Linked DNA regions of Homo sapiens: region 2 is linked to region 1. The links come from fine-mapping of genetic effects on gene expression. Tissue or cell type: minor salivary gland. Region 1 holds a variant in brackets; the other region holds the start of a gene. All regions are shown on one strand. Distances are from middle to middle.

Region 1 (8,108 bases):
ACAAATGTTTATCAATGATATGTGACATTCTAGGCACTATTCTAGACATTCTAGGCACTATTCTAGACATTTAGAATACAGCAGTGAACAAAATAAAGATCCCTACCAGTGTGAAGCAAACATTCTAGAGGGGAAAAAAGGCAAGAAACAATAACACAACAGCACAGTTTATTGTCTCTAAGATGGCAGTGATACAAGATGCACTGCTAGTCTATGTGCCACTAAAGAAAGAAAGAATGCTGCTAATAAATTGCTGCCATTATAGAATGCATCTTGATTTTATGTATGTTAAGATGTGAAACTTAGAATTGATTACATAAGATAAATAAACTATAATATATCAAAATGTGGCTATGAAAAAAGTGAAGCTGGGAGGGGAGTGGTGATATTGAACAAAGGCTTGAAAGAAATGGGACTGTTAAATTAATGGCAACTATTTTTGCAAAACTGCTTTATTGAGATGTAATTTATATATAATAAAACTCACCCTTTTAAGTGTATAATCCATTTTAGTAAGGTTACAGAGTTACACAAACATGATCTAGATTACCATGATCTAGATTTATAATATTTCTTTCTTTTTTTTAAAAAAAAGAACACGTAACAGGAGATCTATCTCTTAACAAATTTTTAAGTGTACAATACAGTGTTGTTAACCAGAGTCACAATTTTGTACAGCAGATCTCCAGAACTTAATCATCTTGAATAACTAAAACTTTATAACCCTTGAATAATACCTTTCCATTTATACTGCCCCATCCCCTAGCAACCACCATTCTACTCTGTTTCTATGTGTTTGACTTTAGATACATTTAGATACTTATGTAAGTGGAATTATGCAGTGTTTGTCCTTTTGTGACTGGCTTATTTCACTTAGCATAATGTCCTCCAGGCTCTTCCATGTTGTAGCATATGGTAGAATTTTTTTAAAGCTGAATAATATTCTACTGCATGTGCAGTATGCCACATTCTCTTTATCCATTCATCCAGCAATGAACATTTGGGTGGTTTCCACCTCTTGGCTACTGTGAATAATGCTGAAATTAACATGGGAGTGCAGATATCTCTTTGAGGTCCTGATTTCAAATCTTTTGGATAAATCCCCCAAATGGGATTGTTAGATCATATAGTACTTCTATTTTGATTTTTTCATGAACCTCCATACTGTTTTCTATAGCAATTGCACCATTTTACATTCCTACCACAGTGTGCCAGGATTTCAGTTTCTCAACAGCTTAGCCAACACTTATCTTTGTTTTTTTTTTTTTTTGGTTTTTTTTTTTGGATAATAGACATCCTAACAGCTGTGAGATGATATCTCATTGTAGTTTTGATTGTATTTTCCTGATGACTAGTGATGTTGAGTACCTTTTCATATACCTATTGGAATGGCAGCTATTTATTGAACAACTATGATATCCAAGAGGGCAGATATCATTTGTTTACCACTGTGTCCCCACTGCTAAAGCATCTGGCACATGGTAGGTACTCAATAAACATTTGTTGAATGAATGAGCTACTATTCATATATGCCAGGTACTTCACAGTGAATTCTTATCAAATGTTTGGAGGTAAGCATGGTCATGCCTATTTTATGAACGGTGAAACTGAGGCTCAGAAAAGTAACTTGTTCCTGGTCACAAACCCAGGTGAGGAGAATATAGTACTTGAACCCAGGTCTCTCTGATGTTAACATGTAAACTCTTCCTCTACATCTCACTGGCTTCTCTGCTTCTGGCCATTTTAATATCCCTCTGGTACAAAAATAAAAATAAAAAAAAATTGGAACACCAGGCAAGCAGGGGCTTTGGATAAAAATCAGACTCATAGAAACCAGAATGAAACCTTTGGGAATAGAAAGCCCAATTCACTGCCTGGGAAATGTCACATTTTGTGGAGGTGCAAGCAGTTGGCTTGTTATCTCAGATCTCAAGTTCTAGCTACTTTCACTTTAAAATCTATTATTTGAGTGAATTAAGACTCCCTGCCTCCAAAGAGACGATTTTTTTTAGTAAAAACTCTCCCTTGTTAAACAGTTTAACTCAAACTGGCAGCATAACTGTTAAAAACAAACTTACTTTGATACTTTGCAAAGCATAAGGCCAAATAACAATGGACATGGAAACCCACCACAGTCTTTCTAAGACTAAGTCAAACATCCTATATATAGAAAAACATCTTGGGTAAAATCTGTTAAGCCAATATTGGCTGAATTCAAAATTACACCTAATTTGAAACAACTGCTTTTTCCTCAGCCAACTGGCTACCCTATTGTTCTTTAATAAAAATAACAGAAAATCCAAATTTGAAGTCAAGTTCTCCCCGAAGAAAGATACGTTTCATATTAAAAGGCTCTACTGGTGACACTTGTGATATGAGCTGGGGTCTCCATTGTCTATCCTGGTAGAGTGGGAAGATTATCAGTGGTTAGGCAAGGTCCCTAAAAACTTGAAATTTTTGCTACAAACACGAGGGAATAATTAAACTTGGTTGGAATAAACAAACTTTTGGGGCAGTCCAGGCAGAGATCAGAATTCTCAAAATCCAAAGGCCTTTGTTGTGTTTTATTCATAACCTGCTCAGAGGAAAGCCGAAAATGGATCCTATATACCATGAGCTCATTCCTTTTTTTTTTTTTTTTTTTTTTTTGAGACAGAGTTTCTCTCTGTCACCCAGGCTGCAGTGCAGCGGTGTGATCTTGGCTCACTGCAAGCTCCGCCTCCCAGGCTCAAGCAATTCTTGTACCTCAGCTTCCTGAAGAGCTGGGACTACAGGTATGTGTGCCACAACACCCGGCTAATTTTTGTATTTTTAGTAGAGACAGGGTTTCACCATGTTGGCCAGGCTGGTCTTGAACTCCTGACCTCAGGTGATCTGCTCGTCTTGGCCTCCCAAAGTGCTAGGATTACAGATGTGAGCCACCGCACCTGGCTTCATTATTTCTCATTGAGGCAAAATGTTCCATTGTATGAGTAGATCAAAGTTTACTTGTACATTTCTCTGTTGGTGGACATTTGGGTTTCTTCTAGTTTTGAGACATTAAGTGAAGCAGTAGTTACCAGCTAGGGGCTGGGCCTATTAGTCTGTTTTCATGAGTCTGTTTTCACGCTGCTGGTAAAGACATACCCAAGACAGGGAAGAAAAAGAGGTTTAATTGGACTTACAGTTCCACATGGCTGAGGAGGCCTCAGAATCATGATGGGAGGCAAAAGGCACTTCTTACATGGTGTCAGTAGGAGAAAAATGAGGAAGAAGCAAAAGCAGAAACCCCTGATAAACCTGTCAGATCTTGTGAGACTTATTCACTATCATGAGAATAGCACGGGAAAGACTGGCTCCCATGATTCAATTTCTTCCCCCTGGGTCCCTCCCACAACACATGGGAATTCTGGGAGATAGAATTCAAGTTGGGATTTGGATGGGGACACAGCCAGACTATATCATTCCACCCCTGGCCCCTCCAAATCTCATGTTCTCACATTTCAAAACCAATTATGCCTTCCCAACAGTCCCCCAAAGTCTTAACTCATTTCAGCTTTAACCCAAAAGTCCATAGTCCAAAGTCTCCTCTGAGACAAGGGAAGTTCCTCCACATATGAGCTGGCAAAATCAAAAGCAAGCTAGTTACTTCCTAGATACAATGGAAAAACAGGTATTGGGTAAATACATTCATTCCAAATGGGAGAAATTGGCCAAAACAAAGGGGTTACAGGGCCCATGCAAGTCCGAAATCCAGTGAGGTCGTCAAATTTTAAAGCTCCAAAATGATCTCCTTTGACTCCAGGTCTCACATCCAGGTCATGCTAATTCAAAAGGTGGGTTCCCATGGTCTTGGGCAGCTCCACCCCTGTGGCTTTGCAGGATACAGCCTCTCTCCCACTGCTTTCACGGGCAGGCATTGTGTGTCCGTGGCTTTTCCAGGTGCACAGTGCAAGCTGCCTGTGGATCTACCATTCTGGGGTCTGGATGACGGTGGCCGTCTTCTCACAGCTCCACTAGGCGGTGCCCCAGTAGGGACTCTGTGTGGGGGCTCCGACCCCACATTTCCCTTCTGCACTTCCCTAGGAGAGGTTCTTCATGAGGCCCTGCTCCTGCAGCAAACTTTTGTCTGGGCATCCAGGCATTTCTATACATCTTCTGAAATCTAAGTGGAGATTCCCGAACCTCAATTCTTGACTTCTGTGGACTGCAGGCTCAACACCATGTGGAAGCTGCCAAGGCTTGGGGTTTGCACACTCTGAAGCCACAGCCCAAGCTCTATGTTGGCCCCTTTCAGCCACATCTGGAGCAGCTGGGACACAGGGCACCAAGTTTCTAGGCTGCACACAGCACAGGGACCCTGGGACTGGCCCATGAGACCACTTTTTCCTCCTGGGACTCCAGGCCTGCGATGAGAGGGGCTGCTGTGAAGGTCTCTGACTTGGCCTGGAGACATTTTCCCCACAGTCTTGGGGATTAATATTAGACTCCTTGCTACTTATGCAAATTTCTGCAGCTGGCTTGAATTTCTCCTCAAAAAATGGGTTTTTCTATTCTACTGCATCATCAGGCTGCAAACGTTCTGAACTTTTACGCTCTGTTTTCCTTTTAAAATGGAATGCTTTTAACAGCACCCAAGTCACCTCTTGAATGCTTTGCTGCTTAGAAGTTTCTTCTACCAGACACCCTAAATCATCTCTCCCAAGCTCAAAGTTCCACACATCTCTAGGGCAGGGGCAAAATGCCGCCAGTCTTTTTGCTAAAACATAGCAAAAGTCGCCTTTGCTCCAGTTCCCAACAAGTTCCCCATCTCCATCTGAGACCACCTCAGCCTGGACCTTATTGTTCATATCACTATTAGCATTTTTGTCAAAGCCATTCAACAGGTCTCTAGGAAGTTCCAAACTTTCCCACGTTTTCCTGTCTTCTTCTGAGGCCTCCAAACTGTTCCAAACTCTGCCTGTTACCCAGTTCCAAAGTC[G/A]CTTCCACATTTTCAGCTATCTTTTCAGCAACGCCCCACTGTACTGATACCAACTGACTGTATTAGTCTGTTTTCACGCTGCTGATAAAGACATACCTGACACTGGGAAGGAAAAGAGGTTTAATTGGACTTACAGTTCCACATGGCTGGGGAGGCCTCAGAAACATGGCGGGAGGCAAAAGGCACTTCTCACATGGCAGTGGCAAGAGAAAAATGAGGAAGAAGCAAAGGCGGAAACCCCTGAAAAACCCATCAGATCTCATGTGACTTACTCACTATTACGAGACTAGCATGGGAAAGACCAGCCCCCATGATTCAATTACCTCCCCCTGGGTCCCTCCCGTGACACATGGGAATTCTGGGAGATACAATTCAAGTTGAGATTTGGATGGGGACACAGCCAAACCATATCACTGGGGGAGGAAGGCACCGTGGTAGTGCTATGGACCGAATCATGTCCCCTCCATATTCGTATGCTGAGGCCTTGAGCCCCAATGTGAATATATTTGGAGATGAGTCCTTTCTGGAAGTAATTAAGGTTAAATGAGGTCATAAGGTTAGGGCCCTGATCTGATAGAATTTATGTCCTTTTAAGAATAGACACCAGAGCGCTTGCTCCAGGTGCACAAAGTAGTGGCCATGTGAGCATACACTGAGAAAGCAGCCATCTGCAAGCCAGGAAGAGGGCCCTTACCAGCCATTCTAGTCCCCTGATCTTGGACATCCAGCTTCCAAAACTGTGAGAAACCGATTTTTGTTATTGAAATCGCTTAGCCTTTGGTATTTTGTTCTGGCACCCTGGCAGACTAATATAAGTAGGGGTAAGCAGGTTATTAACCAGAAAGAGACACAAAGGAGCTTTTCACATAAGGGCGATGGATATATTCTGTATCTTGATCAGGGTAGTAGTTACGTGGGTGGATACATAGGTGAACAAGTTTATCAAACTGTCAGTTTCAGATTTCTACATTCTTGTGCATATAAATTTTCCTAAACTTGAAAAAGGCCGTCTTATCCCCATCTTTCCCAATGGAATCTGTGTTTCAAAAAGATAACAATATAGTGTTCATGCCTTCAAACAGGCCTGGTAGAAAGGAAATTAACATACATTATTTATCTCGTATATATGTATGTTTCTGCCTGTAATAAATAATGGGGATTGAGCACTTAGCACAAGAGTAAGCAACTGCCAAATGCAGCTCTGGGTTCAGACCTGTATGGGGCAGACCTGAGAGCCAGGCCCCTTTCCCTACCATACTGAAACTGACAGCAAAGCCGCTCAGCTAAGGGGATGTGCAGAAAGGACGCCCTGGGGTCTCCTGAGGCTGCAGGGCGGCCGGGGAGCCCTGGGGTCAGGAGGGCAACTTTCTGGGGCACAGTGCTCGAGTCACCTCTCCGAGGAACGGCTCTGCCTGCACTGCTTCTTGTACTTTGTTTACCCGCCCCTAGGAAAAGAGCTGTGAAGATGATCGTAGGGAGCAAGCAGTGAGGCGGCAAATGGCTCTGAGAGGAGCCACGCAGACAGCTGGGCAGCCGTGCCAAGAACAACAGGAAGCTCGCGGCCCCACCCCTGCTCGCTGCAGCCCTGGCCTGGAGACCCAGGGTTATTTGCTTTGAAGGGCCCTCTGCAGATGTTACATAAACAAAACCTCCATTGACTCCAGTTCTGAGCCTGGCCTAAAATAGCCCGCGGGCTTCCCCCTACCACTGTGCAGTTTCGCCGCCATCCCTTTTGGTCCCCTTGTGTGCTAGCTGCTTCCCTCCATTGACCACATGTGCAGACAACTCTCGCCAGTGTCCCTAAGAGGCCAGTTCCCTGGGGAACAAAAAGTGGGGCTCGTTTGCCTTCCCTGGCAGGTCAGACACAAAGCATCCCTGTAAGACCTTTGATGGCTACTGGCCAAGGGACACGTTTCCCCTCCCCAGGGAGGCAGGAAGCTGGGCTGAGGCACAGTGGGGTTTGGTCAGCAGCCAGCACAAGAGGGACTGTGCTTTCTCTCTGTGTCTGTGTCTCTTTCTGTGTGTGTCTGCGTCTCTCTCTCTCTCTGTCTCTTTCTCTCTCTTTCCTAAGGGCAAGCTCTCCAGGTAAGGGCACGAGTTCTTCGTCAGCGTCTCTATTTTCACTTGATGTAACGACTGAACACTCTACTCTTGACTCTTCCTCCAAGCTCCTATAAAATTCCCTGACCCCATTTGCACTTCAGCTCCTTCATTCTGCAGAAAACCATTCCTTCGTGAACATCTGGAGAATCACAGATCCGTGCCACAGCACGGGGTCACTCTGGGCCTTGCCACTCAACATGGGTCCCTGGAAGCTATTATCATCTTTTCCCTTTGACCTCCTGCACTTCTCCAGGATCTTAACTCATAAAATAAAACCAAAAACAACACCAGCAATAAAAACATATTTATGTCAAATACTTACTATGTGCCTGATACAAGGCTAAGCATTTTATGTGTTTTATTTTATTTCATATTGAACAGTCTTATGAGATTGGTACAATAATTATCTCCAGCTGACAGAAGGACAAACTGCAGTTTGGAAAAATTATAGAACTTGTACAAGATGTGACAGAGGTGGAACAGTCAGACTTGTATTCAGTGTCTCAACCACTGCATTGCATGTCCGGGGAAAAAGAGGGCAGGACTCACAACTCCTCCTTTCCATGGTCTTTCTTCTATTCAAAGGCCATGCTATTGTATCCATGGTCAATGTCATTAAACATATCACTGATCAATTAATTATCCAATCAGTATTTAAGGACTATGTTTTCTGGGCAAGTTGCTATTTGAGTCTATACCAGACCAAAAAAACAAAAACGTATGATGTATACTATGTGAATATCTAGCTCCTACTGTATCAACAGTTGTACTTCGGTTGTGAGAGGGCTTTGTGTTTCTCTGGGCTGAAGATCCTCAAACCAGATGGCCATCCTGGAACTAGAAGTTCTTCTTTAATTTAATTTTTTTTTAATTTCAACTTTTATTTGAGATACCAGAGGTATATGTGCAGGTTCGTTATGTGGGAATATTGCATGAGGCTGAGGTTTGGAGTATGGATCCTGTCACTTATGTAGTGAGCATAGTACCCGATAAATAGTTAATTGCTGCCCCCCATCCCCCACTGTCTAGTAGTCCACAGTATCCA
Region 2 (8,108 bases), 990 kb before region 1:
CTTCTGCAGATGCTTCTAGTGATTCCAGGTGACCTTCTCTGTACACCTAAGGCCCCTTTTCAGACTCCAGCCCTAGCTAGGAGTCAGGCAGGGGATGGAGAAGAGGTGATTGTCGTGGTGCTAGGACCATGTCTGCTGTGGGGGTGGGAGGGTAGACACAGGAGACAGCAGTGGAGGCATCACAAGAGATCATTCTTCTGCTTTCAGGTTGGTTGTTGCCTATGCCATGCCTACTGCCCGCTCTTGTGTTGTAGACAAGGGAGTGTCTCTAACTGTGGAAGGTGGGGGCTCTCCTTTTTTGTAAAACGCTATACTTTATTCCGATATCGTGTTCTTGAAGTTACTTACAAAAGGCTAATATAGCCCTTATTTTGTTTTCTGTAATGAAAATTATTATATCAGTAATACATGCTCTTTGTAAAGAATTTGAATGATACCTCAAAAATATTTTTAGAAAGTAAGACACATGAAATCCCATCACCTTGAGAGAAATACCACTGACATTGTAGTAACCATATTTTCACACACACACACACACACACACACACAAACTATACTTGTACATGTATATACATAGAATACTATACATATATACATACTATACTATAAATATATACATAGTATGTATGTATTTATATTATATAGCTACATACATATAGTTATTTAAGATTACAAGATACAAGTGGTTTTATCATAGATATTTTCTCCTTCCCTCTCACTCCTCTCCCCCATATCCTTCATCCCCTACCCTCTGGATTACCATATTAACAGCAGGTTGTGAGTGTAGATAGGTCTAGGGATAAGTAGGAGTTAAGGAAAAAAGAACAGGTGACAGGCAGCCCAGACGAAGAGAACACCACATGCAAAGGCAAGGAAGCAAGAGCTTATTAGAGCTGTGGCTCTTGAAACTTTAATGTGCATACAGATCACCTGGGGATCTTGTTGAAATATAGATTCCGAATCAGCAGATCTGGGATGAGGCCTGAGATTATGCATTACTACAAGTTTCCAGGGAATGCCCAGGCTGATGGACCACGCTTTGAGAAGCAAGGATGTAAACTATTGTGCAGTTCAATGTAGTATCTACCAGCCACATGTGACTTTTATTTTTATCTATTTATTTATCTTAGATGTCTTGCTCTGTCACCCAGTCTGGAGTGCTGTAGTGCCATCATAGGTCACTGCAGCCTTGAATCCTGAGCTCAAGTGATCCTCTTGCCTCAGCTGCCTGAGTAGCTGGGACTACAGGCCTGTTCTGCCATGCTTGGCTAATTTTTTTTTTCTGTAGAGATGGAGTCTTGCTATATTGCGGCAGCTGGAGTGCAGTGGCTATTCACAGGCACTGTCTGAGCACACTGCAACCTCAAACTTCTGGCCTCAAGGGATCCTCCCACCTCAGACTTCTGCCCACGTAGCTGGGATTATAGGCATACCACCACCAGGCCCAGCATGACTATTTAAATTTAAATTAGTTAAAAGTAAATGAAGTTTAAGATCCAGGTCTTGTGTTGTGCTAGTCACATTTCAAGTACTCAATAGCCACATGTGGCTACCATACTGGACAGCAGAGATATAGAACATTTCCATCACTGCAGAAAGTTGTATGGGAGAGTGCTGGACAGCATTCAGGGGACTGCCATTAGTTCAGCATGGTTGGATTATAATAGGTATGTGGGAAGTGAGAGGAGGAAGTAGATAGGTGGAGGTTGGTTTTGTTTCTGGTGGCAGTAAAGAGCCATTTAACAATTTCCAATGGAGATGACAGCAGTGTGGAAGAATTCATGGGGAAGGGAACACTGGAGACAGGGAAGCTGAATGAAGGTGGAGGCTACTGCAGTGGATGATGCTGAAAGTAAATGATGGAGCTAGAACTAAAGTACAAGCAAGGGCTGGAAAGAAGAGGCAGAGTCATGGTGGTCAATAGGAAGAACTGCCCGCATGGAAGAAGATGAGGAAGTAGGAGGCTGAGAAATGGAGGAGGAGACTGAGAAAGGAAAGCATTTGCGCTAAGTCCTGGACAGCTGGGCTAAGGAATTGTTATTCTTCAAGACAGAGGACACAAAAAGGAAGTGGAGGGGTGGAAGAAGAGAATAAATTCTGGGCCAAAAGAGTGATTTTGTGGTGTCTCTGGGAAATCCAGCTGAGAATATCTGGAGGGCTGGTGGGTATTCTTCTAGGTCCCTTTATTCAACTTCCGACAGATTAAATTTGGAGAGACTGAACTCCCTCAAATTGGACAGATTGGCCAGTCGTGGTGGCTCACATCTGTAATGCCAATGCTTTGGGAGGCTGAGGTGGGAGGATCACTTAAGCCTAGGAGTTGGAGCCTGACCCGTGAGCTATGATTGTGCCACTGCACTCTAGCCTGAGTGATAGAGTAAGACCCTGTCAAAGGGAAAAGAAAGGGAGAGGGAGAGAGACGAGAGAGAGAGCAAGAAAGAGAGAGAGAGAGAAAAGAAAAGGAAGGAAGGGAGGGAGGGAGGGAAAGAAAAGAAAGAAAGAAAAGAAAGAAAGAAGGATTGATTAGACATACTAATTTCTCTAAAAAAATTAGGCCTAATAATAAACCCAATTGAAACAATTCTCTTTAAACTGCATTATAAGGATTTTTAGTACCAAATATATATTATCTTGAACCTAACTCAAAAGCAATTATAAATCAGTTTATTTTGTTCTATTGTCTCTGTATTTAATAGACATTTCTCCTCTAAGCCCAGTGAACAGTTTTACTATTTCGAATGAACTGTTTGTAAGTTCATTGAATTGAGGTATTTGGCCAGAAATGTGAAGCCTTCAGATTAAGGTGAATTTCTCTTAAATCAAACACAAATATAATTCTTTCATAATTCCTTCCCATTTTTATCCCCTGATTTGGGGAGGAGGGAAGACATTCTGCACAACTACCCCCAGCCCCTGCTAGGTTGCTGCTGAATTCCTGCATTAGTCTCTTTACTAAGGAGATTTACTTCTCTTTTCCTATATTTTCCCATGTTGCCTGACCACATGCATTGCCATAGTTAAAGGAAAGGTAATATCTCTCAGCTATCCAAAGGGACTATAAAAAGAACAGATTCCAACTAGAGATATGTTTGGAAGACTCTTGAGAAAGGTGAAGGGACAACAAACTGGTATTCACTCTCCAATTTCAACAAGATCCTATGAATATCTGCAAGATGATGACTAGGTGCTAGGGTTTATTGGTAAATTTTACTCAACTTCTTCTTCCCACCAAAACCACCTTAATCACACCCGAAACCACACCCTACATCAGATCCTATCATTCCCCTGTTAAAACACACACACACACACACAACAAACAAACAAAACACTTGAACAGCTTTCCATCATTCTTAGCACAAAGTATAAACTCTTTCACAAATACAAAAATTAACCAGGCATGGTGGTGCATGCCTGTAATCCCAACTACCCGGGAGGCCGAGACGAGAATAGTTTGAACTTGGGAGGTGGAGGCTGCAGTGAGCCAAGATCGTGCCACTATACTCCAGTCTGGGCAACAGAGCGAGACTCCATCTCAAAAACAAAACAAAACAAAAAAACTCTTCCAGGGTTTCCTGCATGGTCTGGCCCCAAGCCATTCTCATCTCAGGCCACTCTGCTCCTTAAGTTCCATTTCTGGGAGTCCTTAAACAGGTAAAGCCCTTTCCTGTTTTATCTTGGGGCTCTGGACGAGTTGTTCTTTCTGTTTACAAAGCCACACCCCACCAGAGCTGCCTGTCTTGATCTGTTAACCAAGTGTAGGCTATTTTTTGGTTTCCCTTCCTGCTCCACCCCCAACACCTGGGGAAAGGCTAGGTAGCATGTTGTTTGAGGGGCTCTGCCTTCAGGCTGCTTGAGTTCAAATCCTGGATCTACCACTGGCTAGCTGCTCTGTGACTTTGGGCAAGTTACATAACATAATTATTTCCCCATCTATAATTTGGAGATGATTAAATATATTTTGAGGATTAGATTTGTTAGCAGATGGTAAGTACGTGAAACAGCAATAGAAGTTCTCCTTTTAGCATATACTCCAATTTTCTTCTACTTATTTGTTTGCCAAGTTTGAGCCTGTTACCTTGAGATTGCTATGGTTGCCTTCTCAACCTCCCCAACTCCTACCCTCCAGCTGATTATGGTCTACTTATTGGACTCTGTAAATGAATAAAGAGGGAGCATGAGGAAAGGAGGTAGTCCTTCTAGCTTTAGGAGAGGCCACGGGAGTGAGCTTGTTGAACAAGACATGGTCGTGGCTTCTCTTTAAGCTTACGGTTTAGGCGGACACAGATGATGAACACACACCGGATTAGTGTGGCTTTAAGAAAGGGAATCCCAGGGCCTTAGGCCAACCCTGGAGTAACCTCGATGCCCTCTCCAGAAGGGCACCCGAGGAAGGGTCTAGGGCCCAAGAGCACCAAAATCACCAACGCCGGGGATTGGTAGGTAGCCTGAAAAATCTAATTCAGAGAAGGATGCTCCGCGCGCAGACATGGCTTATCCCCGTGCTACTGCATGAGCCACACCTAGGCCGGCCCCGGACACCGACAGCCAATGGCCGGGCCCGTCCCGCCCCATCCGGGATTGGCTGTGCGTGCCGCGGCCCTCCACCCCGCCCCGCTCAGGATCTTCCCGGGATTGGCTGAGCTACCCGACCTCTCCAGGGGATCGGCTGCGCGCCCCGCCCTTGCCCAGAGTCTTCCCGGGATTGGCTGCGGGCCTCGCGACCCTCCTGCTTCCCTCCCCGCCCCGCGCCGCCTCTCTGGTTTGTGCGCCCGTCGCAGGTCGCAGGCCTCTTTGTCAGCTGGAGTTGCGCGGTGAGTGCATCTCCAGTCTTCGGCTTTCGGTCTCCCGCGGGGAGGGCGCCCGGCCGGCCCGTGGGTCCGATCAGGGGCTGGGCTCGCCCGGTGTCCCCACGAGCTTTGCCCGCCTCGAGCTCCTCTGCTCCCGGCGGCCAGAACGGAGGGGTAGAGCAGCCCTCGGCGGCCCGGGGGGCGGGCGGCGGTGCCCGTCCCGGGGCTGCGCGAGGCACAGGCGCCGCGCCCAGCGGAACAGCCGGAGGTTCCCGGCGCAGGTCTGGGCACCGTAACAATTTTGCGCTTTGCTTCCCCAGGGCTGACGCGCCACTATGTAGCGGGTTTCGGGCGGGCCACGCGTGCGGGACAGGAACCCAACCCCAGCCGACCTTGAGCTCCAGGAGTTCGTCTCTTACGTCTGCGGAAGTGCAGCTGCCTCAGTTCTTAGCGCAGGTATGTTCCTAGCCTTGAGCGGGGTGGGGGAAGGAATGAGTCAGCCTGGAGCACGTGGCCAGTGGGACCGGAGGGTTCCCCGGCGTCTGTTTGTCGCCAAGGTCCGAATCCGGCTCCCCTTAACTGGAAGGAAACATCCATGTAGGGGCTCACCAAACAAAACAGCTGTGTTTCTAGTGTGGTTTCAGACTTAGAGAAGCAGAGATCCACGAGGTATTGAGAGCAACGCGGAAAATAGTAGTGAACCCTGTAAAAATCAAAGAAAAAAAATCACAAAGCACCCTTTCCTGTGCCCTTTTAAGGTTGACCCAGTGCTTTAAGAGGCTAACACAGAAGGGTAAAGTAAGTCTCCATAAAACCCAGAGAAGAGACTGGAAAGCTCCTCTTTGGATCCTGTCTGGAGTCACAACTGAACCAGAAAAAGTTTCGTTACAACTTGAGCGCCTTTGTGATTTTCTTTACAGTTTATAGAACAAGCAATACATTTCAGTTTTCTTTGGTTAAAACGTCATTTTAAAACTTTTCTTTCTATAGGTTGACAACTACAGGCACAAGCCATTGAAGCTGGAATGTCCTGTTGCTGGTATTTCAATTGACTTAAGCCAACTATCCCTTCAGTTACAATAGGAAAGTGCCTCTAATAAGGCCAAATATGCGTACTAACTTGTAGCAACCACGTGTCCGTGCAGTGCCACAGGAGCTAGAGCAGTGACAATGCTGGTGGCAACAGGGCAGTGTAGCAGGTGCTTCATGTTCACCTTTTCAACCTTTTCATTTAATTGTCACAACTCGGAGGTGGATTCTGTTAGGGACAGGCTGCCCCAGGACCACTCCGCCCCCGCTAACTCAATGCAGCTGACCCTTACCCTGAATACTCTGCAGCTGCATTCCTGAACCGTTATCTAGGCGCTATAGCAAGGTCACCAGACTTGCTACACCGAAGCCCTCTGGGTGGCACGGGGGAGGTCATGAGAAACGTGGATTACACCCCCTTGTAAATTCCTATTTTCACAAGATAATATATTGTAAGCCGGTCATGAGATTATATGTGGTAAAGTTAATTGACTAACAACCCCAGGGTCTCTCTCCCCCATATAAACCCCTCATTTTGTAAGCTCAGGGCTGCCACCTCCGACTGGTGGAGAAGCCTGGCAGGTTAATAAACTTACTTGGCCTGACCTTGGGTCTCTTGTCTTTTCTCTCGGCTAACCTTACAGATTCTATTCTCCCATTTCACAGGTAAAGAAATGGATTAGTGATAACTCAAGTTTCATCACCTGTGAGTATCTCTGAATGAGAGGCTTCACATGTATAACTTTTAGGCAATGTGACTTCTGGAAAGTCACTTGTCTCTTGAGATTTGGTGTCCTGGTGTAACAGTTAAGAATTATTTCAACCAAACTAGGAAAGGACCACAGTCGAGCTGTTAAGAATATAAACTCTTCATATTATTTCATTGCATTGAGCCTAAGAAGGTTCACAAAATTTGGCACAGAAGGAGTATCTGTCAGCATATTCTGTTTTTTTGTGTGTGTCTATGTAGCAAGTATTAATATTTATCTTGGAGTCATTCTTAATTCATAGCATTGTTCTTACCTTTTTATCTAAACTTTTATGTTCCATATTGTAAAGTCTAGCCTCATAAATTTAGGTAATTGCTCACAAGTTTGGATAATGTTGAATTGTAATCCCGATGTTAGAGGAGGGGCCTGGTGGGACGTGATTGGATGAAAAGGGTGGATTTCCCTCTTGCTGTTCCTTGTGATAGTGAGTTCTCATGAGATCTGGTTGTTTAGATGTGTAGTGTGGCTGGGGCAGTGGCTCATGCCTGTAATCCCAGCACTTGGGAAGGCCAAGGCAGGGGGATCACTTGAGGTCAGGAGTTAAGACTATCTTGGGCAACATAGTAAGACCTCGTCTCTACAAAAAATGAGGCAGAAGGATTGCTTGAGCCCAAGAGGTTGAGACTGCACTGAGCCATGATCTTGTCACCGTGCTCCAGCCTGAAAAGAAAAATTAATAAAAATAAAGGTTATGCAATTGTGCACATGTTATCTCAAGGCAGAGGCAGAAGAATGGCAGAGTTTAGATTAAAAGTGTGGCACCTCCCCTTCCTCCTACTCTGGCCATGTGCTTCCTGTTAGACATACCCCATGATTGTAAGTTTCCTGAAGCCTCAGCAGCCATGCTCCCTGTGCAGCCTGCTGAACCATGAGACAAACCTTTTCTTTATAAATTACCCAGTCTCAGTTCTTTATAGCAATGTGAGAACAGACTAGTACAAAAAATACATTCAACTAATGTGTTAGCTGGCTATAATTGCTAAGGGGGTAAGGAAAGGGAGATGACTTAACATGGCCGGCAAGGGAGGCCTCACTCAACATGAAAGAGCTGAGGGAGATGCCATGGCCTTATCTATAGTTGAGGGAAGAGCATTCTAGGCAGAGGGAAAACTAGTGCAAAGGCCCTGAGGATAGTTGTGTTTAAAGGTTTGGAGAAGCAGTGAAGCTGTAGAGAAGTGCCCTTAAGGAGCGGAGGACTTTATGTCTGTAGTAGTGGAAAGTTGGTTATTTTCAAACTATGGTAAAATGGCAACGTGCTCTGGCCTGCGGGGCTCTGAATGTTTTAATTTAATTGGAATGCTCCCTATTGCCTTATACTTTACTGCTCTTAACCTAACTTTTCTCTGACCACCATCAGCCCTTCTATGTGTTCTTGATTTTCTTTAGCACCCTGTAATGGCCCTGTAGCATCAGAACTACATTGCGCATCGCATGCAAACTTACCTAACTGCCTCTGCTTCTCTCCATTCTGTAAAGTCCACCTTAGTTCCCACCATATTACAGAGGGTCTAGTCAGGTGCTT

What was found. PIP is the estimated chance that this variant, and not a neighbour inherited with it, causes the effect.
Region 2: DANCR starts here. The variant in region 1 is fine-mapped to the expression of DANCR in minor salivary gland (GTEx, PIP above 0.99).

The regions. Positions count from the first base shown.
Region 1 is chr4:53,696,275-53,704,382 of GRCh38, forward strand. The region is part of intron 1 of LOC100506444 (a long non-coding RNA gene); the gene reads left to right. Among named protein-coding and RNA genes, the nearest start is that of LNX1-AS2, 110 kb to the left of the region's middle. RefSeq lists an enhancer at 6,277-6,396. The variant G/A (reference allele first, on the strand shown) is at 4,961.
Region 2 is chr4:52,707,717-52,715,824 of GRCh38, forward strand. DANCR (differentiation antagonizing non-protein coding RNA) reads left to right here and starts at 4,678. Exons shown (of 5, transcript NR_145129.1): 1 at 4,678-4,811; 2 at 5,108-5,243; 3 at 5,778-5,826; 4 at 6,483-6,522. It overlaps MIR4449 (microRNA 4449), which reads left to right and starts at 4,966; the gene lies at 4,966-5,031. It overlaps SNORA26 (small nucleolar RNA, H/ACA box 26), which reads left to right and starts at 5,533; the gene lies at 5,533-5,654. RefSeq lists silencers at 4,484-5,317, 4,492-5,061 and an enhancer at 5,312-5,361.